Regions from separate parts of the Homo sapiens genome. Here region 2 is linked to region 1. The links come from fine-mapping of genetic effects on gene expression. A gene starts in region 1. The other region holds a variant in brackets. All regions are shown on one strand. Distances are between the middles of the regions.

What was found. PIP is the estimated chance that this variant, and not a neighbour inherited with it, causes the effect.
Region 2: its variant is fine-mapped to the expression of LINC02561 in blood mononuclear cells (TOPMed, PIP 0.98).

The regions. Positions count from the first base shown.
Region 1 is chr10:5,264,106-5,280,368 of GRCh38, reverse strand. It overlaps LINC02561 (long intergenic non-protein coding RNA 2561), which reads left to right and starts at 9,133. Exons shown (of 2, transcript NR_149060.1): 1 at 9,133-9,171; 2 at 13,684-14,380. It also overlaps the pseudogene AKR1C7P. RefSeq lists an enhancer at 7,631-8,830.
Region 2 is chr10:5,237,392-5,253,654 of GRCh38, reverse strand. No RefSeq gene overlaps it. Among named protein-coding and RNA genes, the nearest start is that of LINC02561, 26 kb to the left of the region's middle. The variant A/G (reference allele first, on the strand shown) is at 8,426.

The DNA.
Region 1 (16,263 bases):
GCTTTGTCTTCAGGATTGTACTGGCAAAGCCATGTTTCACCTCATTTTACAATTCTTTGAAGATGCTTCAGGATCTTGATCTCCCTTACCTAAAATTTCCTTGGAAAGCTTTGCTCCTGTCTGTAGCTGATCTGGCCACAACAGTTTCGTCACCCATGAATTGGAAAGTTCACTCAACTTAAATTTTTCAGTTACTATAGTGTAAACTGAACCAGTTGAGATATCTATGGTGTTGGTTATCATTTCTGCTGTTAATCATTGGTCTTCTTTAATGAGGGCACTAGTAAGATACATTTTTGTTTTCCTGCAAATTGATGTGAATGGTATGCTGTTGCGGGCTTCATCTTCAACATCATCTCGTTCCTTCTTCAAATGAATTATTCATTTGTGAACTTCTGATTTCTTTGGGGGATTTTGCCCATATATTTTGTGTAAAGAGTCAATAATTTCACCATTCTTCCACCCATGCTTCACAATAAATTTGATTTTTGTTCTTACTTCAATTTAGCTGAATTCATGTTTTTCTGATAGGGGAGTTGTTTTATCTTTCTCAATGCCTCAAACTAGATCCTGTTCAGACACATCATAACAAATTAGTACAAGTTTATTTTGGAGCATTTTTTTTTGAAATCCATGTATGGTTTTTTCATAATGCACATTTTCAATCAATTTTTTGAATATCCCCTCATGTTATAATCATTTTCTTTTTATGTACCCATCATCACACTTAAGCAATAATTATCTCACAACCAAACATGTTACGTAGATAATTCTACCTCTGTATTATTTTGAAGCAGACATGATATCATTGTATCTGAAAATGTTTTGTAAAATATTTTAAAAATCTCTAAATCTTTAAATAAACATTGCCAGAATACTTTTATACCACTTGAAATTGTAGCAATAATTTCTTGTTGTTAGTAAATATCATGAGTGCTAAAATATAATTTTATCATATTTTTAAAGTTGATTCATTTAAATTGATGTGGAAATAAGGCCCATACATTGCAATTGGATGATATGTCTCATAAATCACTCTTTTTTTTTTTTTGAGACTGAGTCTCGCTCTGTCACCCAGGCTGGACTGCAGTGGCACGATCTTGGCTCACTGCAACCTCCACCTCCTGGGTTCAAGCTATTCTCCTGTCTCAGCCTCCTGAGTAGCTGGGACTATAGGCATGCACCACCATGCCTGGCTAATTTTTGTATTTTTAGTAGAGACGGTCAGTCTGGTCTCAAACTCCTGACCTCATGATCTGCCCGCCTCAGCCTCCCAGTGTTTTGGGATTACAGGCGTGAGCCACTGATCCCGGCCAAATCACTCTTTCAATAAATAAGTTTGTTCTCTTCTTTTTTTTTTTTTACTTCTCTCCTCCTCTTCCTCTTCTGCCTCCTCTGTCTTCTCTTTCTTCTCTTCTTCCTTCTTCTCCTCCTGCTCTTCTACCTTCTCTTCCTTCTCTTCTTCCATAGTCCTCATTCTCATTCTGCCTCTTTCTTTCCTTCAATTTACTAATGAAAACTTAAGCCTTTTATTCCTGTAAAGTTTTCCTCCGTATAGGATATACTGGTTGATCCAGTGATACAATTTAACATGTTCCTTTTGTACTTTCTGTAAATTGAAAGTTAGAGCTAAAGATTTGATCACAATTGGTTAACATCATTTGAACTCATGAATTTTAACAAATATGTCCTTTTCCCAACCATTGTAGTTACTATGCCTTTTGTTGCTCAACTTGCCATCATTTTGACCAGCAGGAGCCTTTTCAATTGAGCTTCTTGGTCCTTTGACTTGCCTCATTTTCTTTATGTTCTTTGCCATTTAGAATGTAAGCTGTTCTAGGCTGAACTTGTAGCTTCCCCAGTCAGAACTAGAATTAGCCATTTTTCTAAGAAATCTTGGTTTGTCTGAGTAGAAATGTCATTTAGAGACTATAATTTGGGCACGAGAGATGTTAATCATTTTAAAACACTAATAAAAAAAGAATAAGTAAGTTATCATGTTAGTATGACCACTGATGGAATTTGAAAGCATTTCAGAAGGTGCATGGGGAAAATGACCAATATGAAATACATAGTACATATATTAATATAGTACTAGATATTCCTTCAAAGCATTTTAAAATTTACATGTGGTTATTTGCTCATGTATTCTGACACCTTTTGGTCTTGAAAAATTACAGGTGGAATGTCACCCTTACCTCAACTAGAGCAAACTCCTGGAGTTCTGCAAGTCCAAGGACATTGTTCTAGTTGCCTACAGGGCCCTGGCATCTCACAGAGACCCAAACTGGTAATAAGAGTATCGAAGAGTTAATCTATATCAGCAACTCTATTGATTAAGAAACTTTTAGCATTTCATTCTAGATCAAGTCAAACATAGAACAGTGAACACAACGGTGCAGTGAATTCCCATGTGACACCACTGAGCTTCAATGTCACCAACATTCCTTCCCTCCTGTTTCATTTGTATATCTGCCTTCTCCCAACCCCACTCCAAATACAATTTCAAAGTGATTTGAAGGTGAAATTTACATAGACTGTAATGCATATACGTTAGCTGTACAATTTTGATAAATGAATGTACTTTGTAATCCACATTATTGTCATGATATGGAAACTTTCTCCCAAAAATGTTAATTGGTGTTCCTTCTGAGACAATTCCTCCCCACCTCTAGGCAACTATGTTCATAACGTTTTCGGTCTTAGATTAGTTTTGTCTGCTGTAGTACTTTATGTAAAGAAGTCATATATATTCTTTGGTGTAGCTTCTTTTGCTCAACCTGTCTGTGACATTCATTCCTGTAGTTGCAGGTGTCTGTTCTTTCCATTTTACTGCTGGGAAATATTCCATTATATGGACATGTACACCACAAGTTGTTTATCCATTCACCTATTGATGGGCAGTTTAGTTGTTTCCAGTTTGCCACAATTGCGAATAAATCTCTATGAATATTTATGAGACACCTTGAAACATACTATATTGTGTCTTCTCTCATTGTCTGGGGCTTTGGGCAAAAGGGTAGCACACTCTAGATTTTTCATCTATACTCTTCATATCTGTTGTTTTTCTCCAGGATGGACCCAGATAGCCCATATCTCTTAGAGGAGCCAACCTTGAAATCCATTGCCAAGAAATACAATAGAAGCCCAGGCCAGGTTGCCCTGTGCTATGAGCTGCAGCGGGGGGGTGGTGGTCCTGGCCAAGAGCTTCTCTGAGAAGAGAATCAAAGAGAACTTCCAGGTACAGGTCAAGTGGTGTTGCTCCAAAGTGAGCCATGGGCGCTGGTCTGGGTGATCTCTCTTCCAGGGGGGAATGCACCATATGTCATTCATGCCCGTGCTTCTCTCCTCTGTGTGCTAAGGGAGGGGGCAGGATGGAAAAGTGCGAAGAGATCACTGGATTCACAGTCCTAAAGTTTATCACCTCTAGGGCTGGCTTTGCCACTCACTAGTTGTGTGACACTAAGCAAATTTCAACTCCATCATTTTCATGAGTTTCAGGAGTTCTACATGGTAAGGAACTTTAAGGACCTTCATTTCTCTCCTTCACCATCTCTATCTGACAAACCTCTATTTGTATTTTATGATCAAACTCAAATAGGATTACCTGCTTTGTTACATATCATACATACATAACCATTGGGACACTCTAGCACATTTTTCACCACAATAGTGCCTGGCATGGTTCTGTTAGTGAGTCTTTTCCCTTTTAACTTAACATTGTTTGCTAAGATGTCAGTGTGCTCTCTGGACTGTGAGACCCTAAATGCTGTGACTCCTTCTGGGTCATCTTTTATCACCTTTCCCCTGGCAGTGCCCCGGGCTGGTAGGAAGCTAGGTATAATTTCATAGACTGACCAAATTATTAATAGTAAATCAATGAGTAAAGATTTTGCCTGAAGCCTTCCTCATATACACTCCAATCCATTAGATCAATCAGTGGTCTTTAATTTACTTTGTTTTGAATTCTAAAAGAATTTTGAAAGACTATGTATGCTGTTTTCCATTTAAAGATGGCAGCTAGAAAAATCAACATGAGTTTAGTTATTACAAAGGATGATATTTGAAGCATATTTTCTAATGTATTTGTTTCACAACTTTGTAGCTCTAGATTAAAATTTTTAAGTTATACAAAAATCAAATAGGCAAATCTAAACCTTGTTACCATACAGAAAAAAATCTTATTTTATTTTATTTTTCAATTTAACTCAACATATTAATACATATCCCTGTGACAACCATGTCATTTCTGGAGTATATTTTTAAGATGAATCACTGATGGGTAAATGTATGGGTGGATAGGTAGATAATGGACAGATATAGGTAGAGAGAGAGAGAGAAACACATTAGATAGATATGTATATCATAGATGGACGGAGAGATAGATAGATAGGGCTCTGAGTTTTCCATCTTCTGCATGAAATAATGAACTTAATTTTTTTAAACCACATATCTTTTTCTTTGCTTTAAGGGATTCTTCATCAGGGGACTATGTGTCAATGTGTTTTCAAATAAAAACAACTCTTGGCTTAAGTAAGATAAATATATTCAAAAAAGGTTTTTTTTGTTGTTTGTTTTTTTTGTTTTGTTTTGTTTTGTAAGGAAGTAGTATTTGGTAGTACTTAGTAGTAGCTGGAAATAGTATTTGGGGGCCTGCAGTGAGCAAGTGGTATGGTGGAACAATTGATCAAGAAATGCTTTTCTAAGGCCAAAACATTCTTGGAGCAAGGTTGTCTTGTGTTCCAAGGCTTGCACAGTCAAAGACTGGGTCAAGTTCCAGGGGAAGTGAGTAAGGAAAATCCTGACCAAGTGTGATCAAGTCAAGGAAGCAGGTATTTTGTCCAGATTTGCCTTTGTTTAGTATAAAGAATTTATTTTTTCTGTCTCAAGCAATTCTCTAGAAATGTCTTAGATTGATAAGTTGTCTTTCTTTTGAGAAGTGGAGCAGAGCAGGAGGGAGGTGGGATGGAAAAGTAGCAGAACTCAGGGGGAAGAGGTCTCACCTAGAGGCCAATGAGGACAGAAACTTTACATACTGCCATCCTTGCCTCTGCCCCCGGAAAGCCTTGTATTCCCAGGAAGAAGCTGCTGTCCTGGGGAAAGGTTAATGTGAGTGTTTTCTTCCTTTCAGGTTTTTGACTTTGAGTTGACTCCAGAGGACATGAAAGCCACTGATGGCCTCAACAGAAATTTCCGATATGCTAAGTTACAATTGTAAGTCATGCTTGCAGATTCTTTCACAGGCTGTTTTCTGTAATATGCAGGCAAACAGAGGAATACATCTTCCCTAAATCAGGAAGGCAGGCCAGATTTCAGGAATAGGTATGAAACAGGAGCTTCCCTATAGTCCTCATGTGGCTCAATCTGTGACCCAACAGGAATGTGAGTCAGTAAGTGAAACTGTTGACATCTGCACCATTGTGAATGCACTTCTTCAATTTTTTTTTTTTTTTTTCTGAGACAAAGTCTTGCTCTATTGCCTAGGCTGGAGTGCAGTGACACGATCTCGGCTCACCGCAACCTCTGCCTCCCGGGTTCAAGCAATTCTCCTGCCTCAGCCTCCTGAGCAGCTGGGATTATAGGCGTTTGCCACCACGCCCAGCTAATTTTTGTATTTTTAGTAGAGACAGGGTTTCACCATGTTGGCCAGTCTGGTCTCGAACTCCTGACCTCGTGATCTGCCCACCTCGGCCTCCCAAAGTGCTGGAATTACAGGCATGAGCCACTGTGCCCCGCCATGAATGCACTTCTTTAGTGCCCTTACTACCTGTGCCCGGTCCTGCACGCAGGGCCACTGCCTATTAGAATAGAAGGCACGGTGTCTATGACCCATCATACTTATAGGAGCCCATGATAATGTTCTAGCTTTAATTTATTTTAAAGTCAGAAGAAAAAGAGAATACAACAATGATGAATATGTAATAATGAATCCAGCCTCGTCTATCTTCATGTCTATACCAAGGCAATGTAAGACTTAATTTTAATATTTGTATAGAGCATTGGTCCATGAAAGCAAATGTGCATATGTCCTAGGGAAGTCACAGTGGGCCCTGCTTCCATGGCCTCCCCTAAGTGTCCAGTGACATTTCTCCTTACTGTGGCATTCCTTTTCCGAGACACCAACTATTTCTTCCAAATTTTTGTCTTCCTTGGCTTTCTTTACCTTCACAACTCCCATTTCCTCAGCTATATAATCTCACTAAGCTGAATGACAAATGAATTATGAAATTAATAGACCCTCAGTGCTAGTGACTGAGGTGTCCCCAGTGGCCTCCACCAAGTTAAGATCCTCTGGAATTTCTCCGGATCTTCGAGGCAAGACTCTTACTCCAGTGTCATCTTCGTCCATCTGAAGCCCACCTCTAAGGAACCCAACATAACTTCACTTTAGTTTATTCACAAACATGACGTTCCATTGGATCAACTGTGGCAGGATCTCAGGGTTGAGGAGAAAGATGACTAATCAAACAGAGCCAAGTTTGGAGGGGAGTTTAGAAACAGGGCGAAATATCATTTTAGTTAGGAAAATACTCAGTCTCCAAAACACATCTGAAAGGTCCCCCTTCTTTTTGTAAAACCATACCAGGCTTCCAAGAAAAGACATTTTCAATGAGAAAAATGTGAAAGCAACCTTTCTATACTCACAGGCCTTAAGTATAATCTGTGATCTGCCTCATGAGACTGTGAATGTCTCCTCTTACTCATCTCTGTGGCCCTATGTTAATACAGCTCCTGGTGCATTTAACTGCTTAGAAAGTACTCTTTAATGACACTCAATTAAAAAGAACGAATTATAAAAAAGAAAGCCCTTTTTGCCATTAAGGTAACATATTTTCAGGTTCCAGAGATAAGGGCATGTATGTCTTTGGGGGCCATTACTGAGCCTACTACACTAGTTTTGTAAGTAAATTTAGAGCAACTAAACTTTAGTTTTCTAATTTTTGTAATAGAAAGAATTCTATGTCCAGCCACTGGATCCTGAAACTCTAGACTTTTATCTCAGATATCAAGAGGAAAACCACATGAATAAATACCTGTTTCTTTAAAGCTGATGTAATCTTGACCCTATTGTATTTCCTCCTTCTGGATACATGCCCTTCATTATTTTATTCTAAAATTTATTCTCAGGATCTGTTGACATTGTCTTTTGTTGTTCATATGGAAAACTCAAGCTTTTCAGTTTGCCAACATTCTCAACTCTTCAGAATTTCTACTGATGTCTAGATTATACTTCAGGCAATGGATCCCATGTTTACTACTTAAACGTGCTTCATCTATGAAACCTTCAGTTGGACACATCTTATATTAATGAAGTCTCTTAACTCTGCAGTTTCTACTATACCTTGATTTATCAAGTTCTTGATTCATCAAGAGTTGTCATTAGGTCTCTCTTCTTTCCTCTTTGCATTCTTTCAATACCCATAGAAGTTTACGTATGAAAATTAGGCTAAATAATATACTAAATTGAAATTGATCAGACTCCACTTATTCTACACAAGTAAGTTTGGAAACATCTAATTTAAAGAAAAGCACTTTCTCACTATGGTTTCAGCAGTCAAGATGATTGCCTTTCCAACATCAGTTTTACTTTAAATAATTTGTTTAGGTCAGCCATGCTAATTTCATTGTGGTTGGCATAGGAGTCACTGTGGATAAAGAGTTGTGACCCAGCCTTAGCCAACGCCACATAAGAAGCACTGTGCTGGGTACTTCTAGGAGAGTTTCTCTCACTTCTAAGAAGGAGCCTTTGAAGAGAGGTTGCTTCTCTTCTTCAAGGGGATATTGTCCCATTGCAAGGTGAGGTGTGAAATTGCTGTGGAGTCTCCACCCAGCCTGAGGACGACATCAATACACAGAAGAAGAAAAAGGAGAAGATGAGAGAAATTCTGCACTCTCATGGATGACACCCAGAGTTTACCCTCCCTCTGGACTTCTTGTTATGGGACTAACACATTTTTGTGGATTTTAAACCAATTTGAATTACTTTTTTTGCACCTGCCTGTACTCTAATCCAAACAACCATCCAAGTTAATAATTTTCTCTTTACAATGCACCCTGCATTTTGTACCTATACAAGAGTGGTCAGAATGTGTGAAAACTGCTGAGTCATCCTGACAGCATGGCTCCAGTAGATTCTAGGGGTCGGCTATAGTATTGAGTGATATTAAAATAACAAATAATGCACAAAAGGCATGGATCTAAAAAAGTCTTTAGGAATCTTCACTCACTGAGAGCTCATATTCAGGACACAGTTTCTTCTTCAAATCACCTTGGACAAGTAAGTAACCCTTTTTGTTCCCTTTTCTGTAAAATAAGTTACAAGTTAAATCTACTTTGTAGGGTATTTGAGAGGATTCCCTGATAGTCTTGCCTGATACAGAATAGAAACTCAAAATCTTAGCTAGTAGCGTTGGTGTCATTGCTATTATCAGCACTATAATTTCCCTTGAGTTAGCCAGAAGAAATACTAAGTTTATTGGACAGTGAGTACAGGGTTGCCTTGCTCAGATGTACTGAGCCTACTGTCAACTTTAAGCCGCTCTCTGTGAGGTTAGAGTTTATCTTGGTCTGGGAGGACCAAGCAGAGTGCTTTAGAGATGACAAGCACAGCTGTGTTAAGAGACAACTTCCAAAGTTTGTGACCACATAGGATAAGTTACTCTAACTTTCAGTGCAGTTGAGCAAGAGTCCTTGATTGGTTTCTGTTGTGAATGCCAATATTTTTGTGTCATTTTGTGGGATCTTCCAGACACTGTCTGAGAGAAAATCTCCATAGCCTGGAGAGGAAGAAAAATGTCTGGATGGTGGGGTTTTGTCTCCTAGCACAGTTACCACCCAATGACCATCCTTCTTTACTTTTACAGGCCATTATGTTAAGCCTTTTTCATTTGTTGCTCTCCCATATCCCTATTTAGACTTTGATATCTGAAGGTGGAAACCATCCCTTTTCCCTCTGGAGCTGGAGTGATGTTCACGGAAGGCAAAGCAGCTGGGCCTGAATGGGGCTAAGCTCTGGGAGCCATGAGTGTCTCCACAGAAACAGAGCAGGACACCCGGAGGGACCACCCAAAACCTTGGGTCCGTTTGTGAGGCCATCAGATCCTCAGCTGGCATTTGACAAGGAGGATCAAGGTTGCAACAGCCTAAAGAAGTTTAATTTCAAGAAAACAGGTAACTTTTCTTTCTTCTTACTCATCTGAATTTGTGGATTGAAAATTATTTGCACCATATAGAGGAGTTTTCTAACTATCAAAGCACCAACAGTGGAGTTATTTGCTGCAGGACATGTTGAAATGATTCTCATTGAAGACAACTGGATGAATTCCCAGTGATGTTTGAAATGCAGGTTTGCCAGAGGAAAAGTCTGTTGAATTCTGTTTTTGAGAACCAGACATTTTCTTATAGATTAGGATAAACTCCTTGCATAATAAAGGTGTTTATCCATGGACTTCACATTTTATTCCTGTTGCTGTCTGATACTTTCCCCAATTACTTGGTTTAATTTGGCCTTCAAGCTCCCCTCCAACCCTGAGAGGCTGTTAGTGTGAACCCAGAAAGATTTATTCTGTCCCATGTTTTTATTTCTCCTGGAGCACAGTAGCACGAAAGAGGAGTGGATAGTATCCCCAAAATACAGAAGGGAGGAAACGGATGTGGAGAGAGAGGGAAGTAACCAGGGTACTTTGTCCACCTTCACATGATCCTAGGGATTATCCTGTGTCACAGGCACTTCAGAGTTGTTTTATTTTGGTGGTGTCTAAAAGATTTTAGTCTTAAAACACACATCCAGCCTGGGCCACAGACGTTGTCTCTACAAATAATAAAATAATTAGTCGGGCGAGGTGGCATGCGCCTGTGGTTCCAGCTAATAGGGAGGCTGAGGTGGAAGGATCACCTGAATCCAGGTGGCTGAGACTACGTAAGCTATGATGGCACCACTGCACTCCAGCCTGGACGACTCCTTCTCATAAAACCAAACCAATCCACACACACACACAGAGAAGAGAAACAGAGTTTACTTTTGAATATCGTTGAGAGAATATACTGAATTGCCTGGCGTGATGCGAATGAAGCAACATAGTTCTGTTCCTATAACAAGGACATTGGAAACAAAATTTTCACCAGTTGTAGCATTTCCAATTAGTCTAGTTGGGAGTCACCAGGATTAGATCAAAGTATAAATCCAAAGACTGTCAGAAAATATTCTGAATTCAGGAGAGAAGGGAAATCATGATAGAACAGGAAGTCTGATCTGTGTACAATCAGAAGATATCATAATCCAAATTTTACATCAAGTTAGGGGTACATGCAGGGTTTAACTCTGGAGAAACTTCACACAGAAGTCTGAAGACACCAAGAAGTGTCTTGGCAGCTGAGTAAAGGCAGCTTGGGATGAAGTTGAGAGTGCTGGGCATCTGCCAGGAAATTTCATGGTATTCAGCTTCATCAGAAATATGACTTGCAACTAAATATTTTTATCCCATTCTATAGGTTGCTTTCTGATGCTTAGTAGTCTCTTTTGATGCAAAAATGTTTTAATTTATGAAGTCTCATTCATCTATGTTTTCCTCTGTTGACTGTGCTTTTGGTGTCACTTGCATTTGATTTTCAGCAATTTCAGCCCTGTGGCTGTAAGACATAGGATTCTCACTCAGCGCACACCTAGAAGCTCTTAGGTCATGTGTGCTTAATCCAGGATTTTGAATTCCTGAGCTCACCCTTTTTTTTCTTCCTCTTTCCAGCAATATGAGGTGCAACTAACCAACATCATTCTATTCTTAGTTTTCCACAAATGTTTGAAAGTATCACATACAGAGTCACTATTTTTTTTGCCTCTTTTAAGTTGTTAAGTAGAGTATCAATGCAGATGTTTTGTGCACTCTATAAATACTTCATATCATGGACTATCAGTGCTCTCTTCATTATTGGAAATAAAGTCCTTCGCATTTTCAAGTCTAATCTGATTAGACTGACAATGCCAGAAACCCCAAAACCAATTCAGGAAACTCAAAATTCTATTCCTCTAGAACTGCTCCAGATACCAAAATCTATATTAGTCAGGGTTGTCCCAAGAAACAAAACATATAGTGTGTGTGTGTGTGTGTGTGTGTGTGTGTGTGTGTAAATGAAAGAGGAAATCTCACATGAAAGACTCAATCAATGCAGCAAACTTTATTTTATTTTATTTTATTTTAAATAAATGACCACAGCCACCTCACCCGTTAGTAACCACCACCCTGGTCAGTCAGGAGGCATCGACATCATATCTAAAACCTCCACTATCAACAAGATTATGACCTGCTGAAGGTTCAGATGACTATTGGCATTTCTCAGAAATAAAATATTTTTAACAAATGCATGCATATTTTTTTCTTTAGCTGTAATGCTATTGCACACTAAATATATGACAGTATAGTGTAAACATAACTTTATATGTACTGGGAAATCTAAATATTTGTGTGACTCATTTTATTGTCATATTTGCTGCATTGCAGTAGTCTAGAATTGAACTTGCAATATCTCTGAGATATGCTTGTATATAATATGTTGTCTATATCTTATCACAGTTTTTGACTAAATTTTATTTTTCCTGGTCCTAGTATAGCCACCACAGCTCTTTTTTGTCACTGTTTTTATAGAATATCTGTTTCTGTCTTTCACTTTCATACTAGTCACATCTATAGATGCAAACTGAGTTTCTAGTGCTGAGTATATAGTTGGATCTTGTTTCTTTTAATCCATTTTGCAAATTGATCTGCCTTTTGGTGTGGGGGTTTAATCCATTTACATTTAAAGTATATTCATGTGCTGCATAACAACATTTTGGTCAATGATTGACCATATATACAACAGTGGATTTATAAGATTACAAAACCTATTACTGCTCCTTTTATATGTTTATGTACACAAATACCATTGTGTTACAATTGCCTTATAGTATTCAGTAGAGGAACATGCTGCACTCTACTGTTTATAGCCTACAGGCAATGGTCTAGACCAGAAAGCCTATAGTAGAATATACCATTTAGATTCATGTAAGTTCACTCTATGGTGTTCACATGATGCTTGAATTGCCTAAAAATGCATTTCTCAGAATGTATTCTTATCATTAAATGACAGATAACTATAATTAGTGACAGCAACTTAATTTTGCATTTTAATATTTTTCTTTTCCTGTATGTCTATAGCATTTTGTTCTTCATATCCTCCATTACTAACATTTTTTTGTGTGTGTCACTGATTGATTTTTAGGGACACTTGGATTTCCCTCTCATTTTCACTTGTGTATATTCTATAATTGTTTTCTTTGTGGTTACCATGAAAATGACATAAAACATCCTAGAGTTATAAAATCTCCTTTGAAATCAATACACATTTAATTCTGTACATAAATTCCCCTTTTCCACATCTGTGTTTCTCTCAACTTCACATTACTGATGTCACTAATTACAACCTCATACATTGTGTACATGTTAACATAGATTTATAGTTATTTGTACACATTTGAATTTTAAATTTTTTTTTTTTTTTGAGACAGAGTCTTGCTCTGTTGCCCAGGCTGGTGTGCAGTGGCACAATCTTGGCTCACTACAAGCTCCGCCTCCCAGGCTCATGCCCTTCTCCTGCCTCAGCCTCCCAAGTAGCTGGGACTACAGGCGCCTACCACCATGCCTGGCTAATTTTTTATACTTTTTAGTAGAGATGGGGTTTCACCATGTTAGCCAGGACGGTCTTGATCTCCTGACCTCATGATACACCTGCCTTGGCCTCCCAAAGTGCTGGAATTACAGGCATGAGCCACTGCACTCAGCCAAATTTTAAAACTTGAACAGAAAGCTAGTATAAACAAAACTTTCAAAAATACATGTTTTTGTATTTTGTCCCATATTTACCTTGATGAGAGGTCTTTATACTTGATACGACTTTACATAACCATCTAATCTAACATTCTTTTATTTCATAGTGAATTACTCCCTTAAGCATTTCGTGTAGAGTAGTTCTAGTGGCAATGAGCTCTGTCAGCTTTTGTTTATATCACATTGTCTTTATAACTTCCCAATTTCTGAAGGTCATTTTTGTCAGATACAGAATTCTTGGTTGGCAAGTTTTCTTTTTTCTTTTACCAATTAAAAAATATATATAATCTCATATGCCCTCCAAGGTGTCTGATAAGAAATCTCCTGATAACTTCATCCAGAATTCCTTGTACCTCATGAGTTATGTTTCTCTTGCGGCTTTTCAAATGATCTCCTTGTCTTTGGCTTTTGAGAGTTTGATTATAATGTATGTGGGTCTGGGTCTTTTTCAGTGTATTCTCTCTGCAGATCTTCAAGTTTCTTGTATTTGTAGATTCATGTCTTTCATCATATTTGAACCATTCTTTTTCATCTTTTTCTTTCCAACTTTTATTTTAAGTTCAGGGGTATATGTGCAGGTTTGTTTCATGAGTAAATTTCATGTCATGGCAGGAGATGTACAAATTATTTAGTCACCCAGGTAATAAGCATACCTATATAACAAACCTGCACATGTATCCCTGAACATAAAAGTTAAAAAAATAATTTTTTAAAAGTCCTAAAAACTCCAAACATACACATTTGTATAGGAAAATCATGTAGGTGGATACACATTAAGTATTTTTCAATGGGAATATTACAGCTTATTTTTGTTCTCTTGTTACAGGCTGAAAGAATGAGAGTTGTGACCAACTCAGTATACCACTGGAGGCTATATGAGCAAACAGAAAACTGTTCTTATGAAAGCAGGATGTTGGAAAACTGATAACTGTGTCTGCCGCCAGAAGGGGTGCTGAGGGCAGTCAGGCCTCATGCACAGTGTTCCTTGTGATTATCTATAGGAACATCTGAAGCCTGTTGTACAAAGAAAGCAATTATGTGGACCTGTGATAAATCAAGCAGTGGACCAACCATTAGCTCTCCCTCCCTGCTCTTTCTACCTAACAAATATGAAAGACTGTAGAAACTCAGGGCTGCCTTTGCTCTCTAGAAGCAAGGAGCCCCTGACCCCCTCTTTCAAAATAGGTCTTTTCGTCTTTGTCTTTACTTCTGCATTCGACCCCCTTCATTGACCCTGTAGAAACTGTCAGTGACATTCTCTTTTCCCTTGTATTTTCTAAATTTTCTATAATTTGCATGTTATTTTAATAATTAGTGAGGGCATCAAAGAAGTGGATTTACAATGGTGCAAACATTGGCAGTTTCAGTTAGGAACTCATATTCCTGTTGGGTCAGAGATTGAGCCCTGGAGGAAACCTCTGGTCTGAGGGCTACAGGGAAGCTCCTGTTTCATGCCTATTCCTGAAATTAGGCCTGTCCCTCTGATTTAGGGAAGATTTATTCCTCTGTTTGTCTGCATACTACAGAAACAGCCTGTGAAAGAATCTGCAGGCATCACTTACAATTGTAACTTAGCATATTGGAAATTTCTGTTGAGGACATCAATGGCTTTCATGTCCTCTGGAGTCTACTCAACAATTTTTCTTCAAAGTCTAAAGGAGATTTTTTCTTCCAGCATAATATTCCGTGCAGTGCAGAAAGTCTTTTCTTTTGCCTTTTGGTAAATGGCCTAAGAGATTTTACAGTTTATTGAGAGAATTCCTATGCCATTATCATTAAGTTTTGGTTTGCTTAGAATGTAAAAAAAACTGAGATTAGAACAAATTTTTAAAAAAGTAAGGTTATTACATCTGTATATCTTTCTGTATGTGCTTTTAAAGTCCTTGTGACATTGAGTTACAGGGCTTTGACTCCTGGATCTATAAAGGACACCAAGTCCTGCTACATCTTAAACACTGACAACAATTAAAGCCTCATCTTCAGGCGCAGTAGAAGATGCCAATCAAAATAAATTGCATTCCTGAGACATAGGGCCAGAAATAAAAGCTATTCAACTCCTCAAGGCCCCAGGACTATTGTGGAAGAGGTGGGTGTGTGAGATTGAAAGGGCCAATTTTGAGAGACAAAATAAGTTCAATTTCTCTGTAAATTAATCATTAATGTCAAAGGCACACTGATGCAAGACAAGAATATGGCCCCCTGTGACAGATTAACAAGGTTTTAGTGAAGCATTAACTGACTCCTTAATAAAGGTTATAAAGGTTATAAAAGGCTTAAGAAAGTTATATCCTATTGTCAAGATTAAAAGTTCATAAATTGTTAATAAAATTTTGAAAAACAGATTTAATTGGTATCACACTGTTTTTATTAGGGCTTATAGTTTGGAAAATTAAGTCTTCTCTCTCAAAGAAAAAAGGTTTTTGCCTTTTTTTGGAATCCTTGTGTTATCACTTTGGTTAAATGAATGACTTATTTTACAATGACCTGTAATATCAAGTGTTTTAAACCATTGATATTTGACAAACTTTCCAAATCAAATTATAAATTATTTCTTTTTCAGACCTAATTAATCCTTTAAGATATTAGGTTCCCTAAAATCTAAAAATGAAATTTGGCTCACTTGGTGTAAAAATTATACAGGAAGTATTGTCAAACATGAAATGGTGTTTGGTTATCTTTGGGCTGTATTTGTATAAATATGTAATTGGCATGTGTTCCAAAATTATGGGAAACTCATATAACTCTGATATAACTTAGTATACATTATCAGTAATAATCATTGTCATGTTAAATTATGGTGTGCCACAGAGGTAACAAATTTCCCTGTCAATTGTGTTTTTGACTATGGCTGCTCTAAAACTTTTTGTCATCCACAGACAATTGTTTCTTGTTTTGCTCCTCTTTAGAAGGTGGTTTATAGAACTATAATACTCTAACAGGTGCTCTTGAATGCAGGTTTCTGATAACTTTGAAGACTGTGACATCAGAATAGAGGAAAAACTTTGAAAACTCATGGAGAGCTGAAATGTTCATGAATATCAAGCAGAGCAGGAATTAGCTGCATGAACTGAACTAATAGAAGACTGAAGTAATCTTTTTGACTTTTTGCTTAAAACATTGCTGATCCTTTGTTCTGTATTTTTCAGAGTCAAGGAAGCTTTTCTTTTGAGCTATTGGCAGCTTTTAACAATTTAGTATACTCCCGTGAACAAAATTTGGAGCTTATTTCTTTCTCTCTACCTGATTTCTCCAGAATTTGGAAACTATTTATTAGTATTCTTAACTTATGGCAATACAGTTATTTGCATAAGTGCAATAAGAATATGTTTTTATTTGAAACAGGACACAATTGGAGAAACTGGTTATTTTACCAAGGCTTTGACTGGCACGCTGTGCTTTCTTTCAG
Region 2 (16,263 bases), 27 kb after region 1:
CAGGCCTGCCCCACCTCAGCCAAGGCCTTCATGCTGCTCTGGGCTACCTCTCCCAGGTCCTGCATCCCAAGCAAAGGTGCAGACTCAATTGAGATCTCCTGAGACTCACTCCCTGCCCCTGCAACAAGATGGCCATGTCCTTGTCAAGTTCTTCTCTAGGAAAATGTGGGATTCACATAGAGGCTTGTATCTACCTGTGCAGAGGTTTTCCAGAGCCTCGTGTTACCTCCTCTATCTCATCATTGGTTTTTGGCTTCAGTCTCACCTTCTTGGTGATGTCTTTGTCCCTGTGTCATTCTAATCAAAGTAGCTCCCCAGTCCCCACTGTGTCTCTCCATCTTACTCCTCAGTTTTAGTTTCTTCAGAACAAATGTGACCAGAGCAATTGCCTGAATTATTCCCTTATTTTGTGGTGTGTTTTCATATTTATTGACTGATTTCTCCAACACTAATCACCACACCTAGAAAAGCTCCCTAGTATGTGGTCAGTGCTCAATAAATATTTGCGGAATGAATGAAATTGAGTTCTAAGCATAGGCACAGTGGGGGTTTTTTTTTTTAAGTTTTTCTGTGCTCTGTTCTTATTTTCTGTGATCTGCAAACTATCTCTAAATCCTTATGAAAGGTTGCATCCAACACTGTTTTTTTGCAGTGGGAAATTGAGAGGCCCATGTTGCACTCAAACAGAGCAGCGAAGCATTCGTCATCCCTCCCCTCAGGGCTGGGACTAACAGCAGGGTCTTCCTCAACAGGGTACAGCTATGCCCAGCTGAGTGACAAATGCTCTAGTCACAGAGAACACAGCAGCACAGGAGGCCAGCATGGTGGCCACAGGGGGGAGTTCACACATGGCCGCTTGTGGACAGGTGCAGGGTGGCAGCCCTGAGGAGGTTCAGAGATGACCAGGGACATCTTGAGGTAGCAGCATCAGTCATGAACCAGGATATAAAAATCCATGCTGCTTATTTAAACAGGATGTGTCATCAGATGGTGGGAGTATCTGGAAGCCAGTAGGGAACAATGAAGCAACCCAGAGGCTTTTAAACACAGGAAGTCGCTACCCTCCTAGGCTAGAGAAGCAGAGGAGGCAGTGCTGGAGGCAGATCCCGGGGTCCCTGGAAGAAGCAGCAGCCATGGAGGGCCTGAGGGAGGCAGCCAGGATGACTGGAGGGATGGAAGCTGTTGCTGTGTCCCCCAGAGAAGGGAAGAAAAGGCACCTGGACTCTGGCTTCCCTTTCTGCTCTCAGCAGCACCTCACAGTGGCCAAGCCCACCTGGAAGGCTGCGGGCAGAGAAGGCAGTACCCTGGGCTGAAGAGGCTGCCCTCCTGGGCTACAGCAGAGCAGGAGAGGGAGGAGGAGGGGCACTGAGCAGACAGGAGTGTCAGTCAGGATGACCCTGGCCCTGCATCCTCTGGGAGGTTATCAATGAAATCCGCCACCTTAAGTAGTTCAGGCTGATGGGACGAGAATGCTGGGTTATGTAATTGTCACGGTGTTCACTGAGGCAGATAACTAGAACAAATATAAACTTATTTGTTCCTGAGATTTGTTCCTTAAATCTCATTAAGGCTTCTTAAGCATTCACAAGATTGAAGCCACCTTTGCCAGAGGTTAGGATTAATAGGTGGGGTTAGATATCCTACCTGAAATTCAGTTCCAGAAATATTTACTGAGTATTTTTTACGTGGAAATCAGTGTTCCTAGTGTTAGAAATGCAAAATGTTTCTTCTTTTGTGCCACAAGGAAAAATCAGCATTCAGACAAAAAGTTCTCTCAGTGAGGCAATTTTTACTTTCTGCAGAAAGGGTACCCCTTGCAGATGGAACAATGGTGAGGACACACATAGAATAAAGAGACATCAGGGTATCTATTCCTTACGCATGAGGTCCCTATTGCTGTGTCCGTCCTGTCTCCGCTGGCTGGAGCCAGACCTCACAATCTAAATTAAAACCCGATTGGCTAATTTTAAGCTTTTTTAAATAGGTAGAAAAGTAATATTCCCAAATAAGAAAGGGGCATAGGCTGTGAGCTGGGGCATGCCTATGAGCACGTCCAACACAAATATCTTGGTTAAGGTACAAGGACATAGGATGTACAACTTGCCTGTGAGCATGTCTAACAGCTGTATAGCCTAGGGCTTAACAAAGTTATTAGCATAAAGCAAGGAGGCTTGAAGGAAGTTAGTCTTTAAAAGAAACTATCATTTCTAACATTTATGATTTATTCTTTCACAAGGAAAACTTTGAAGAGGAAACTTTACACTATTTTTTTTTTTTTTTTTATTATACTCTAAGTTTTAGGGTACATGTGCACATTGTGCAGGTTAGTTACATATGTATACATGTGCCATGCTGGTGCGCTGCACCCACTAATGTGTCATCTAGCATTAGGTATATCTCCCAATGCTATCCCTCCCCCCTCCCCCGACCCCACCACAGTCCCCAGAGTGTGATATTCCCCTTCCTGTGTCCATGTGATCTCATTGTTCAATTCCCACCTATGAGTGAGAATATGCGGTGTTTGGTTTTTTGTTCTTGCAATAGTTTACTGAGAATGATGGTTTCCAATTTCATCCATGTCCCTACAAAGGATATGAACTCATCATTTTTTATGGCTGCATAGTATTCCATGGTGTATATGTGCCACATTTTCTTAATCCAGTCTATCATTGTTGGACATTTGGGTTGGTTCCAAGTCTTTGCTATTGTGAATAGTGCCGCAATAAACATACGTGTGCATGTGTCTTTATAGCAGCATGATTTATACTCATTTGGGTATATACCCAGTAATGGGATGGCTGGGTCAAATGGTATTTCTAGTTCTAGATCCCTGAGGAATCGCCACACTGACTTCCACAATGGTTGAACTAGTTTACAGTCCCACCAACAGTGTAAAAGTGTTCCTATTTCTCCGCATCCTCTCCAGCACCTGTTGTTTCCTGACTTTTTAATGATTGCCATTCTAACTGGTGTGAGATGATATCTCATAGTGGTTTTGATTTGCATTTCTCTGATGGCCAGTGATGATGAGCATTTCTTCATGTGTTTTTTGGCTGCATAAATGTCTTCTTTTGAGAAGTGTCTGTTCATGTCCTTTGCCCACTTTTTGATGGGGTTGTTTGTTTTTTTCTTGTAAATTTGTTTGAGTTCATTGTAGATTCTGGATATTAGCCCTTTGTCAGATGAGTAGGTTGCGAAAATTTTCTCCCATGTTGTAGGTTGCCTGTTCACTCTGATGGTAGTTTCTTTTGCTGTGCAGAAGCTCTTTAGTTTAATTAGATCCCATTTGTCAATTTTGTCTTTTGTTGCCATTGCTTTTGGTGTTTTGGACATGAAGTCCTTGCCCACGCCTATGTCCTGAATGGTAATGCCTAGGTTTTCTTCTAGGGTTTTTATGGTTTTAGGTTTAACGTTTAAATCTTTAATCCATCTTGAATTGATTTTTGTATAAGGTGTAAGGAAGGGATCCAGTTTCAGCTTTCTACATATGGCTAGCCAGTTTTCCCAGCACCATTTATTAAATAGGGAATCCTTTCCCCATTGCTTGTTTTTCTCAGGTTTGTCAAAGATCAGATAGTTGTAGATATGTGGCATTATTTCTGAGGGCTCTGTTCTGTTCCATTGATCTATATCTCTGTTTTGGTACCAGTACCATGCTGTTTTGGTTACTGTAGCCTTGTAGTATAGTTTGAAGTCAGGTAGTGTGATGCCTCCAGCTTTGTTCTTTTGGCTTAGGATTGACTTGGCAATGCGGGCTCTTTTTTGGTTCCATATGAACTTTAAAGTAGTTTTTTCCAATTCTGTGAAGAAAGTCATTGGTAGCTTGATGGGGATGGCATTGAATCTGTAAATGACCTTGGGCAGTATGGCCATTTTCACCATATTGATTCTTCCTACCCATGAGCATGGAATGTTCTTCCATTTGTTTATGTCCTCTTTTATTTCCTTGAGCAGTGGTTTGTAGTTCTCCTTGAAGAGGTCCTTCACATCCCTTGTAAGTTGGATTCCTAGGTATTTTATTCTCTTTGAAGCAATTGTGAATGGGAGTTCACCCATGATTTGGCTCTCTGTTTGTCTGTTGTTGGTGTATAAGAATGCTTGTGATTTTTGTACATTGATTTTGTATCCTGAGACTTTGCTGAAGTTGCTTATCAGCTTAAGGAGATTTTGGGCTGAGACAATGGGGTTTTCTAGATAAACAATCATGTCGTCTGCAAACAGGGACAATTTGACTTCCTCTTTTCCTAATTGAATACCCTTTATTTCCTTCTCCTGCCTGATTGCCCTGGCCAGAACTTCCAACACTATGTTGAATAGGAGTGGTGAGAGAGGGCATCCCTGTCTTGTGCCAGTTTTCAAAGGGAATGCTTCCAGTTTTTGCCCATTCAGTATGATATTGACTGTGGGTTTGTCATAGATAGCTCTTATTATTTTGAAATATGTCCCATCAATACCTAATTTATTGAGAGTTTTTAGCATGAAGGGTTGTTGAATTTTGTCAAAGGCTTTTTCTGCATCTATTGAGATAATCATGTGGTTTTTGTCTTTGGCTCTGTTTATATGCTGGATTACATTTATTGATTTGTGTATATTGAACCAGCCTTGCATCCCAGGGATGAAGCCCACTTGATCATGGTGGATAAGCTTTTTGATGTGCTGCTGGATTTGGTTTGCCAGTATTTTATTGAGGATTTTTGCATCAATGTTCATCAAGGATATTGGTCTAAAATTCTCTTTTTTGGTTGTGTCTCTGCCCGGCTTTGGTATCAGAATGATGCTGGCCTCATAAAATGAGTTAGGGAGGATTCCCTCTTTTTCTATTGATTGGAATAGTTTCAGAAGGAATGGTACCAGTTCCTCCTTGTACCTCTGGTAGAATTCGGCTGTGAATCCATCTGGTCCTGGACTCTTTTTGGTTGGTAAACTATTGATTATTGCCACAATTTCAGAGCCTGTTATTGGTCTATTCAGAGATTCAACTTCTTCCTGGTTTAGTCTTGGGAGAGTGTATGTGTCGAGGAATGTATCCATTTCTTCTAGATTTTCTAGTTTATTTGTGTAGAGGTGTTTGTAGTATTCTCTGATGGTAGTTTGTATTTCTGTGGGATCGGTGGTGATATCCCCTTTATCATTTTTTATTGTGTCTATTTGATTCTTCTCTCTTTTTTTCTTTATTAGTCTTGCTAGCGGTCTATCAATTTTGTTGATCCTTTCAAAAAACCAGCTCCTGGATTCATTGAGTTTTTGAAGGGTTTTTTGTGTCTCTATTTCCTTCAGTTCTGCTCTGATTTTAGTTATTTCTTGCCTTCTGCTAGCTTTTGAATGTGTTTGCTCTTGCTTTTCTAGTTCTTTTAATTGTGATGTTAGGGTGTCAATTTTGGATCTTTCCTGCTTTCTCTTGTAGGCATTTAGTGCTATAAATTTCCCTCTACACACTGCTTTGAATGCGTCCCAGAGATTCTGGTATGTGGTGTCTTTGTTCTCATTGGTTTCAAAGAACATCTTTATTTCTGCCTTCATTTCGTTATGTACCCAGTAGTCATTCAGGAGCAGGTTGTTCAGTTTCCATGTAGTTGAGCAGTTTTGAGTGAGATTCTTAATCCTGAGTTCTAGTTTGATTGCACTGTGGTCTGAGAGATAGTTTGTTATAATTTCTGTTCTTTTACATTTGCTGAGGAGAGCTTTACTTCCAACTATGTGGTCAATTTTGGAATAGGTGTGGTGTGGTGCTGAAAAAAATGTATATTCTGTTGATTTGGGGTGGAGAGTTCTGTAGATGTCTATTAGGTCCACTTGGTGCAGAGCTGAGTTCAATTCCTGGGTATCCTTGTTGACTTTCTGTCTTGTTGAGCTGTCTAATGTTGACAGTGGGGTGTTAAAGTCTCCCATTATTAATGTGTGGGAGTCTAAGTCTCTTTGTAGGTCACTGAGGACTTGCTTTATGAATCTGGGTGCTCCTGTATTGGGTGCATAAATATTTAGGATAGTTAGCTCCTCTTGTTGAATTGATCCCTTTACCAATATGTAATGGCCTTCTTTGTCTCTTTTGATCTTTGTTGGTTTAAAGTCTGTTTTATCAGAGACTAGGATTGCAACCCCTGCCTTTTTTTGTTTTCCATTGGCTTGGTAGATCTTCCTCCATCCTTTTATTTTGAGCCTATGTGTGTCTCTGCACGTGAGATGGGTTTCCTGAATACAGCACACTGATGGGTCTTGACTCTTTATCCAATTTGCCAGTCTGTGTCTTTTAATTGCAGAATTTAGTCCATTTATATTTAAAGTTAATATTGTTATGTGTGAATTTGATCCTGTCATTATGATGTTAGCTGGTGATTTTGCTCATTAGTTGATGCAGTTTCTTCCTAGTCTCGATGGTCTTTACATTTTGGCATGATTTTGCAGCGGCTGGTACCGGTTGTTCCTTTCCATGTTTAGCGCTTCCTTCAGGAGCTCTTTTAGGGCAGGCCTGGTGGTGACAAAATCTCTCAGCATTTGCTTGTCTATAAAGTATTTTATTTCTCCTTCACTTATGAAGCTTAGTTTGGCTGGATATGAAATTCTGGGTTGAAAATTCTTTTCCTTAAGAATGTTGAATATTGGCCCCCACTCTCTTCTGGCTTGTAGGGTTTCTGCCGAGAGATCTGCTGTTAGTCTGATGGGCTTTCCTTTGAGGGTAACCCGACCTTTCTCTCTGGCTGCCCTTAACATTTTTTCCTTCATTTCAACTTTGGTGAATCTGACAATTATGTGTCTTGGAGTTGCTCTTCTCGAGGAGTATCTTTGTGGCATTCTCTGTATTTCCTGAATCTGAACGTTGGCCTGCCTTGCTAGATTGGGGAAGTTCTCCTGGATAATATCCTGCAGAGTGTTTTCCAACTTGGTTCCATTCTCCACATCACTTTCAGGTACACCAATCAGACGTAGATTTGGTCTTTTCACATAGTCCCATATTTCTTGGAGGCTTTGCTCATTTCTTTTTATTCTTTTTTCTCTAAACTTCCCTTCTCGCTTCATTTCATTCATTTCATCTTCCATTGCTGATACCCTTTCTTCCAGTTGATCGCATCGGCTCCTGAGGCTTCTGCATTCTTCACGTAGTTCTCGAGCCTTGGTTTTCAGCTCCATCAGCTCCTTTAAGCACTTCTCTGTATTGGTTATTCTAGTTATACATTCTTCTAAATTTTTTTCAAAGTTTTCAACTTCTTTGCCTTTGGTTTGAATGTCCTCCCGTAGCTCAGAGTAATTTGATCGTCTGAAGCCTTCTTCTCTCAGCTCGTCAAAATCATTCTCCATCCAGCTTTGTTCTGTTGCTGGTGAGGAACTGCGTTCCTTTGGAGGAGGAGAGGCGCTCTGCGTTTTAGAGTTTCCAGTTTTTCTGTTCTGTTTTTTCCCCATCTTTGTGGTTTTATCTACTTTTGGTCTTTGATGATGGTGATGTACAGATGGGTTTTCGGTGTAGATGTCCTTTCTGGTTGTTAGTTTTCCTTCTAACAGACAGGACCCTCAGCTGCAGGTCTGTTGGAATACCCTGCCGTGTGAGGTGTCAGTGTGCCCCTGCTGGGGGGTGCCTCCCAGTTAGGCTGCTCGGGGGTCAGGGGTCAGGGACCCACTTGAGGATGCAGTCTGCCCGTTCTCAGATCTCCAGCTGCGTGCTGGGAGAACCACTGCTCTCTTCAAAGCTGTCAGACAGGGACACTTAAGTCTGCAGAGGTTACTGCTGTCTTTTTGTTTGTCTGTGCCCTACCCCCAGAGGTGGAGCCTACAGAGGCAGGCAGGCCTCCTTGAGCTGTGGTGGGCTCCACCCAGTTCGAGCTTCCAGGCTGCTTTGTTTACCTAAGCAAGCCTGGGCAATGGCGGGCGCCCCTCCCCCAGCCTCGTTGCCGCCTTGCAGTTTGATCTCAGACTGCTGTGCTAGCAATCAGCGAGATTCCGTGGGCGTAGGACCCTCTGAGCCAGGTGTGGGATATAGTCTCGTGGTGCGCCGTTTCTTAAGCCGGTCTGAAAAGCGCAATATTCGGGTGGGAGTGACCCGATTTTCCAGGTGCGTCTGTCACCCCTTTCTTTGACTCGGAAAGGGAACTCCCTGACCCCTTGCGCTTCCCAGGTGAGGCAATGCCTCGCCCTGCTTCGGCTCGCGCACGGTGCGCACACACACTGGCCTGCGCCCACTGTCTGGCACTCCCTAGTGAGATGAACCCGGTACCTCAGATGGAAATGCAGAAATCACCCGTCTTCTGCGTCGCTCACGCTGGGAGCTGTAGACCGGAGCTGTTCCTATTCGGCCATCTTGGCTCCTCCTCACTTTACACTATTTTTTTAAGTCAGGCATATAAGAATAAGAGTTCCATATTCACTTTGTGAGGCTATATTTTCACATGTTCGCTTGGGCTGGGACTAAAACAACAGCCTTCCTTGAAACTAGGAT[A/G]TGGGAGTGATGGTAATAGGGCAATTGCATCATGATGAAAGAATACCTGAGACTGGGTAATTAATAAAGAAAAGGGGTTCAATTGGCTCATGGTCTGCAGTCTGGACATGAAGCATGGTGCTGGCATCTGCTTCTGGGGAGGGCCACAGGGAGCTTACAGTGACAGCGGAAGGTAAGGGGGGAGCCTGTGTCTCACACCACAAGAGTGGGAACAAGAGAGTGAGGGGGCAGGTGCCACACTTTACACAGCCAGGTGCCCATGAACTCAAAGCGAGAACTAATCACATGGGGGTGGTGCTGAACCATTCATGAGTGATCCAGTCCATGATCCAATCACGTCCCACCAGGCCCTGCCTCCAGCACTGGGGATTACATTTCTGCATAGGATTTGGAGTGCACAAATATCCAAATCATATCAGTAATTATTGCTGAATTTTGAAGCCCCTGGTCCCAGGGATAAACACCTTCCCAAACTGTGGCCTGGAAGACCAAGGGAGAATTTCCTGTCTCTGGGGCATGGATTACACCAGGGAAAAACATCAGGTGTTTGAGTGCCAATGGCTCTACCATTTGTAGGTTGTAACACATGATCAGAAGAATGCAACAGATCAAATATCCAGCTTTGCTAAGGTTGCAGAGTTTGGTCTGAGCTAGGAGTGCGCATTCTTCACCAAGGTCTTCCTCAGAATCTATGCCATGGGACCTGTGCTTGCTGAAGGGGGGATAAGCCACAGTTGAAGACACTCCAACTTCAGAGAACACAGCTCCCTTTAATACTGAAAAGCTTGCTGCCATCAGCACCCCAAGTTTTCTCCTTTCCTAGCCTTGGGTGTTCTACGTGTGTGAACTGTAGGAAAAGAGGAGACACCCAGCATGTAAGAGAGCAGTAGGGAGTACTCAGAACCCACTAAAGACAGCAGATCCTCCTGCTCTCAGCCCCAGGGCACCCCTACCCACCATCCCCCAGACCAAATGAACTCTGCTGTGCAGCTCCTCCTGCCTAAAATTGTCTCCATTCCTGTTTTTCATGCCGCAGGAAGTTAGACAAATGCTGAGGTTATCAGAACAGTAACAACAACAATACTTACTGCTGTGTGCCAGCGCCTTTATTGAAGTGTAATTTATATATCATGAAACTCACCAATTTTTAACATACAGTTCTATGAGTTTTAGCAAATGTCTAGAGTTCTGCAATCATCCCTGTGTTAAGGCTCAGAAAATCATACTACAAAGTGGAAAATGATACCCCAAGGTAGGGAGCTTTGACAGGCTGAACTGAGACAGCAGGCTCAGGGTCTCCCCCACCATACCCCTCCCCTCCTCCCACCTTTCCTCCCTTTGTCTCCCAAGAAGTGCAAGATTAGGCTCTTTTCTGAAGTTTCTTTACCTAGAAACTGGACTCACAAAGAGGAACACAATTGCTTTCAATCTCTCCCTGAAATTTCATTAACCAAAGAGGATTAGAACTTATGTAACAGAGGAAGAGACTGAAAATTAAACACCAACATTTACAGCCTAAACCAACTTTGTCCCAAATTGTTATTTGTTCTGTGCTCCCAACATCCAAAGTAAATAGACTACAGGATGATCTTTGCCTCCCAGGTCCATTCATCTCTCCTGAAAATCATTGACTCCCATACCGCCTATTTCCTCACCTCCCCTTCTCCCATGAAGTGAGGTATATAAGCACCTGGACCTCACCTGGGTTATTAGGTCATGATTCTTCTGCAATTCTTCCATTCTATACACATAAAAATAAACTTATATGCCTTTTCGCTCCTCATAATTTTTTTTTTGTTCATTCATTTTCAGTGAAATTTCAAAGGATAAAGAGGTAAGATTTCCCTTTTTGGCCCTATAACCACAATCTCATTTTGAAACACTTTCATCACCCCAAAAAAATTCTCTGTGCCCATCTGCAGGCAATCTCTCCTCCCAACACCAGCTCTAAGTAACCTGTAACCTACTTTCTGTCTATAAAGCTTCACCTCTTCCAGAAATTTTATAAAAATCAAGTCAAACAATAATTTTTTAAATATTTGACTTTTACTTGATTAAAATATTTGTGGTTAATTTTTGTTCTTGCCTGTACCAATAGTTTGCTCCTTCTTATTGAGAAGTATTTGTTCCATTGTATGGATGTACCGCGTTCTGTTTCTCTATTCACCAGTGAACGGAATTTAGATTGTTTCTAGTTTTTGGCTATTATGAATAGTATTGGTACAATGAACATTTGTGTAGGAGTCTGTGAATCTACATTTTTCTTTTGGGTGGTTGTCTAGGAATGGAACTTCTGGGATCTAGAATAAGTGTATGTTTAACTTGTTAAACTGCCTCACTGTTTTTCAATGTGGCTGCACCATCTTACATTTTTCATTAGCCATGTTTGACTCTCCTGCCCAGAGACAGCCACCTCATCCTGTTTCTCCACCTTTGTTTGCTTTGTTTTGCTGACTGTGCCCACTGGTGTTTCTAGGTCATGAGCCTCCTCAGTGCCCAGTCCAGGATATACAGGAGGCAAAAAGATCCAGAGGACTTACTGCCCAGTCATCTCTTCAGTCCTGGGGTCTAGGTCCCTAGACAGTCTGCCTTCTTTTCTCAACATTTCAGAGACTTTTACTGTTTTTAGGTGTAACGGGTAGGGGAGCACATTTAAGTGCGACACTACATTTCTGGAACCAGAAGCAGGTGTCATGGTTAAGAGCATGCGCAAGTCTAAATCACACTGCCAAGTCTCATCTCCTGTCTCTGGCTTACTTCTCCCACGTCCCGGGAGAAGTCCAGCAGAGGCATTGGCTCCAAATCGAATCTCCTGAGACTCACTCCCCTTCCCCCCGCAACAATATGACCGTGTCCTTGTCAAGTTCTCCTTTAGGAAAGTACTTGAGTCACGCCAAGAATAGTACCTGTCTGAGCAGAGGTTCCCTAGAGCACCATGTCACCCCCTCTCTCTCATCATTTTGTTCTTAGCTTCAGTCTCATCTTCTCAGTGAGGTCTTCATCCCTGTGTCACTCTATTCAGCGTAGCTTCCCAGTCCCCATTATCTGTCTCCTTCTCAACCCTCTGTTTCAGTTTCTTAAGAATTGTCATTGTTAGTAATTATTTGATTTATTCACTTATTTCATGGTGTGTTTTCATAATTATTTTGATTCTTCCAACTCTAACTACCACACCGAGAAAAACTCCCTAGTATTAAACACATCTTTGTTAATCGAAATAGGAACGATTACGACCAACACATTTTTGCCAATGAGAAATAAGTTTGTTCCTATAACATAAAAATCCATGCTTCAGCATTCTATGAACTCTCAGAAAGCATTTTCTGTATCAAGCTGGTTGTGGAAGCATTTTCCCTGCAAAAAGTTGTCAGATGCTTCAAAAAGTGGTAGGTGGTTGGTGAGAGGTCAGGTGAATATGGCGAATGAGTCAAAACTTTGTAGCACAATTCCTTCCATTTTTGAAGTGTTGGTTGTGCAACGTGCAACTGGGCGTTGTGGAGAAAAACTGGGCCATTTATGTTGACCAGTGACTGCTATAGGCATTGCAGTTTTCAGTGCATCTCATATATCTGCTGAGCATACTTCTCAGATGTGATTTTGCTGGGATTCAGAAAGCAGTAGTGGATCAGACCAGCAGCAGATCACCAAACAGTGACCATGACCTTTTTTGGTACAAATTTGGCTTTGGGAAGTGCTTTGGGGCTTCTTGGTCCAACCATTGAGCTGATCCTCATCAGTTGTCTTATAAAACTCACTTTTTGTTGCATGTTACAATCAAATCATGCAATGGTTCATTGTTGTTGCATAGGATAAGAGAAAATGAAACTTCATGGTTCTTTTGATTTTTTGCTCAGCTCATGAGGTACCACTTATTTCACCTTTCCAATTTGCTTCAAATGCTAAACGTCTGTAGAATGATCGATGTTGAGTTCTTTGGCAACTTCTTGTAAGAGGATCAGCTTTGATTGCTTTCAATTTGTAGTTGTCAACTTTCGATGGCCGGCCACTACATCATCTTCAAGGCTCTTGTCTTTGTAAAACTTCTTGAACGACCACTGCACTGTATATTAGTCAGCAGTTCCTGGGCTAAGTGTGTTTTTGTTGTTGTGTGTTTCTGCTGCTTTACAAATCATTTTGAACTCGAATAAGAAAATCACTCGAATTTGCTTTTTGTCTAATGTAATTTCCAGTCTAAAATAAACATAAAATAAACAGCAAGTAATAAGTCACTAGCAAAATAAAGTGAGAAATGCCCATTAAAATGATACATAATATAATCACATTTATTTAAGAATGTATTCTAGTATCAAACAGCAAATTCCAACAATGCAAAAACCACAATTTTTTTTATTCTTTAAGTTCTGGGATATGTGTGCAGAATGTGCAGGTTTGTTACATAGGTATACACATGCCATGGTGGTTTGCTGCACCCATCAATCCATCTACGTTACGTATTTCTCGTAATGCTATCCCTTCCCCATCCCCCCACCCCACAACAGGCCCCCGGTGTGTGATGTTCCCCACCCTGTGTCCAAGTGTTCTCATTGTTCAATTCCCACCTATGAGTGAGAACATGTGGTGTTTGGTTTTTCTGTCCTTGCAATGGTTTGCTCAGAATGATGGTTTCCAGCTTCATCCATGTCCCTACAAAGGACATGAACTCATGCTTTTTTATGGCTGCATAGTATTCCATGATGTATATGTGCCACATTTTCTTTATCCAGTCTATCACTGATGGACATTTGGGTTGGTTCCAAGTCTTTGCTATTGTGAATAGTGCCACAATAAACATATGTGTGCATGTGTTGTCTTAGTAGAATGATTTATAATCCTTCAGGTATATACCCAGTAATGGGATTGCTAGGTCAAATGGTATTTCTGGTTCTAGATCCTTGTTGAATTGTCACACTGTCTTCCACAATGGTTGAACTAATACACTCTCACCAACAGTGTAAAAGAATTCTTATTTTTCCACATTCTCTCCAGCATCTGTTGTTTCCTGACTTTAATGATTGCCATTCTAACTGGCATGAGATGGTATCTCATTGTGGTTTTGATTTGCGTTTCTCTAATGAGTAATGTTGAGCTTTTTTCGTGTTTGACTGCATAAATGTAGTCTTTTGAGAAATGTCTGTTCATATCCTTTGCCCACTTTTTGATTTTTTTTTTTTTGTCTGTAAATTTAAGTTCCTTGTAGATTCTGGGTATTAGCCCTTTGTCAGATGGATAGATTACAAACATTTTCTCCCAGGGTTGCCTGTTCACTCTGATAGTTTCTCTGGCTGTGCAGAAGCTCTTTAGTTTAATTGGATCTTATTTGTCAATTTTGGCTTTTGTTGCCATCGCTTTTGGTGTTTTAGTCATGAAGTGTTTGCCCATGCCTATCTCCTGAATGGTATTGCCTAGGTTTTCTTCTAGAGTTTTACTGGTTTTGGGTCTTACGTTTAAGTCTTTAATCCATCTTGAGTTAATTTTTGTATAAGGTGTAAGGAAGGGGTCCGGTTTGTTGTCTGCATATAGCCAGTTTTCCCAACACCATTTATTAAATAGGGATTCCTTTCAGCATTGCTTGTTCTTGTCAGGTTTGTCAAAGATCAGATGGTTGTAGATGTGTGGTGTTATTTCTGAGGGCTCTGTTCTTGTTCTTTTAGTCTATATATGTTTTGATACCAGTACCATGCTGTTTTGGTTACTGTAGCCTTGCATAGTTTGAAGTCAGGTAGCATGATGCCTCCAGCTTTGTTCTTTTTGCTTAGGATTGTCTTGGCTGTACAGGCTCTTTTTAGGTTCCATATGAAATTTACAGTAGTTTTTTCTAATTCTGCAAAGAAAGTCATTGGTAGCTTGATGGGGATAGCACTGAATCTATAAATTACTTTGGGCAGTATGGACATGTTCATGATATTAATTCTTCCTATCCATGAGCATGGAATGTTTTCCCATTTGTTTGTGTCCTCTCATTTCCTTGAGCAGTGGTTTGTAATTCTCCTTGAAGAGGTCCTTCACATCCCTCTTAAATGTATTCCTATGTATTTTATTCCCTTTGTAGCAATTGTGAATGGGAGTTCACTCATGATTTGGCTCTGCCTTTATTGGTGTATAAGAATGCTTGTGATTTTTGCACATTGATTTTGTGTCCTGAGACTTTGCTAAAGTTGTTTCATCAGCTTAAGGAGATTTTGGGCTGAGACAATGGGCTTTTTAAAATATGCAATCGTGTCAGTTGCAAACAGATAATTTGACTTCCTCTCTTCCTGTTTGAATATCCTTTATTGCTTTCCCTTGCCTGATTGCCCTGGCCAGAACTTCCAATACTATGTTGAATAGGAGTGGTGAGAGAGGGGATCCTTGTCTTGTGCCAGTTTTCAAAAGGAATGCTTCCAGCTTTTGCCCATTCAGTGTGATATTGGCTGTGGGTTTGTCATAAATAGCTCTTATTGAGATGTTCCATCAATACCTAGTTTATTGAGAGTTTTTAGCGTGAAGCGCTATTGCATTTTATCGAAGGCCTTTTCTGCATCTATTGAGATAATAATGTGGTTTTTGTCATTGGTTGTTTATTTGATGGATTATGTTTATTGATTTGCATGTGTTAAACCAGTCTTGTATTCCAGGGATGAAGCCGACTTGATTGTGGTGGATACGCTTTTTGATGTGCTGCTGAAATTGGTTTGCCAGTGTGTTATTGACGATTTTTGCATCGATGTTCATCAGGGATATTGGCCTGAATTTTTTGTCATGTCTCTGCCAGGTTTTGGTATCAGGATGATGCTGGCATCGTAAAATGAGTTAGGGAGGAGTCCCTCTTTCTCCACTGCTCAGAATAGTTTCAGAAGGAATGGTACCAGCTCCTCTTTGTTCCTCTGGTAGAATTTGGCTGTGAATCTGTCTTGTCCTGGTCTTTTTTTTGGTTGGTAGGCTATTACTGCCTCAGTTTCAGAACTTATTATCGGTCTCTTCATGGGTTCAACTTCTTTCTTGTTTGGTCTTGGGAGGGTATATGTGTCCAGAAATTTATCCATTTCTTCTAGATTTTCTAGTTTGCATAGAGGTGTTTATAGTATTCTCTGATAGTAGTTTATATTTCTGTGGGATCAATGGTGATATCTCCTTTATCATTTTTTATTGTATCTATTTGATTCTTTATTAGTCTGGCTAGTTGTATATTTGTTGATCTTTTCAAAAAACCAGCTCCTGGATTCATTGTTTTTTGTTTGTTTTTGTTTTTTCTGTGTGTGTGTGTGTGTGTGTGTTTGTTTTTTTTTTTTTTGGCGGGGTTGGGGGTGTGTGTGGTTTTTATGTCTCTGTCTCCTTCAGTTCTGTTCTGATCTTATTTCTTGTCTTCTGCTAGCTTTTAAATTTGTTTCTTCTTCTCTAATTCTTTGAATTGTGATGTTAGGGTGTCAATTTTAGATCTTTCCTGCTTTCTTCTGTGGTCATTTAGTGCTATAAATTTGCCTCTAAAGATTGCTTTAGCTGTGTCCCAGAGATTCTGGTACATTGTGTCTTCGTTCTCATTGGTTTCAAAGAACTTATTTATTTCTGCCCTAATTTCGTTATTTACCCAGTAGTCATTCAGGAGCAGGTTGTTTAGTTTCCATGTAGTTGTGTGGCTTTGAGGGAGTTTCCTAATCCTGAGTTCTAATTTGATTGCACTGTGGTCTGAGAGACTGTTATGATTTCCATTCCTGTACATTTGCTGAGGAGTCTTTTATTTCCAATTATGTGGTCAATTTTAGAATAAGTATGATGTGGTACTAAGAAGAATGTATATTCTGTTGATTTGGGGTAGAGAGTTCTGTAGATGTCTATTAGGTCTGCTTGGTCCAGAGCTGAGT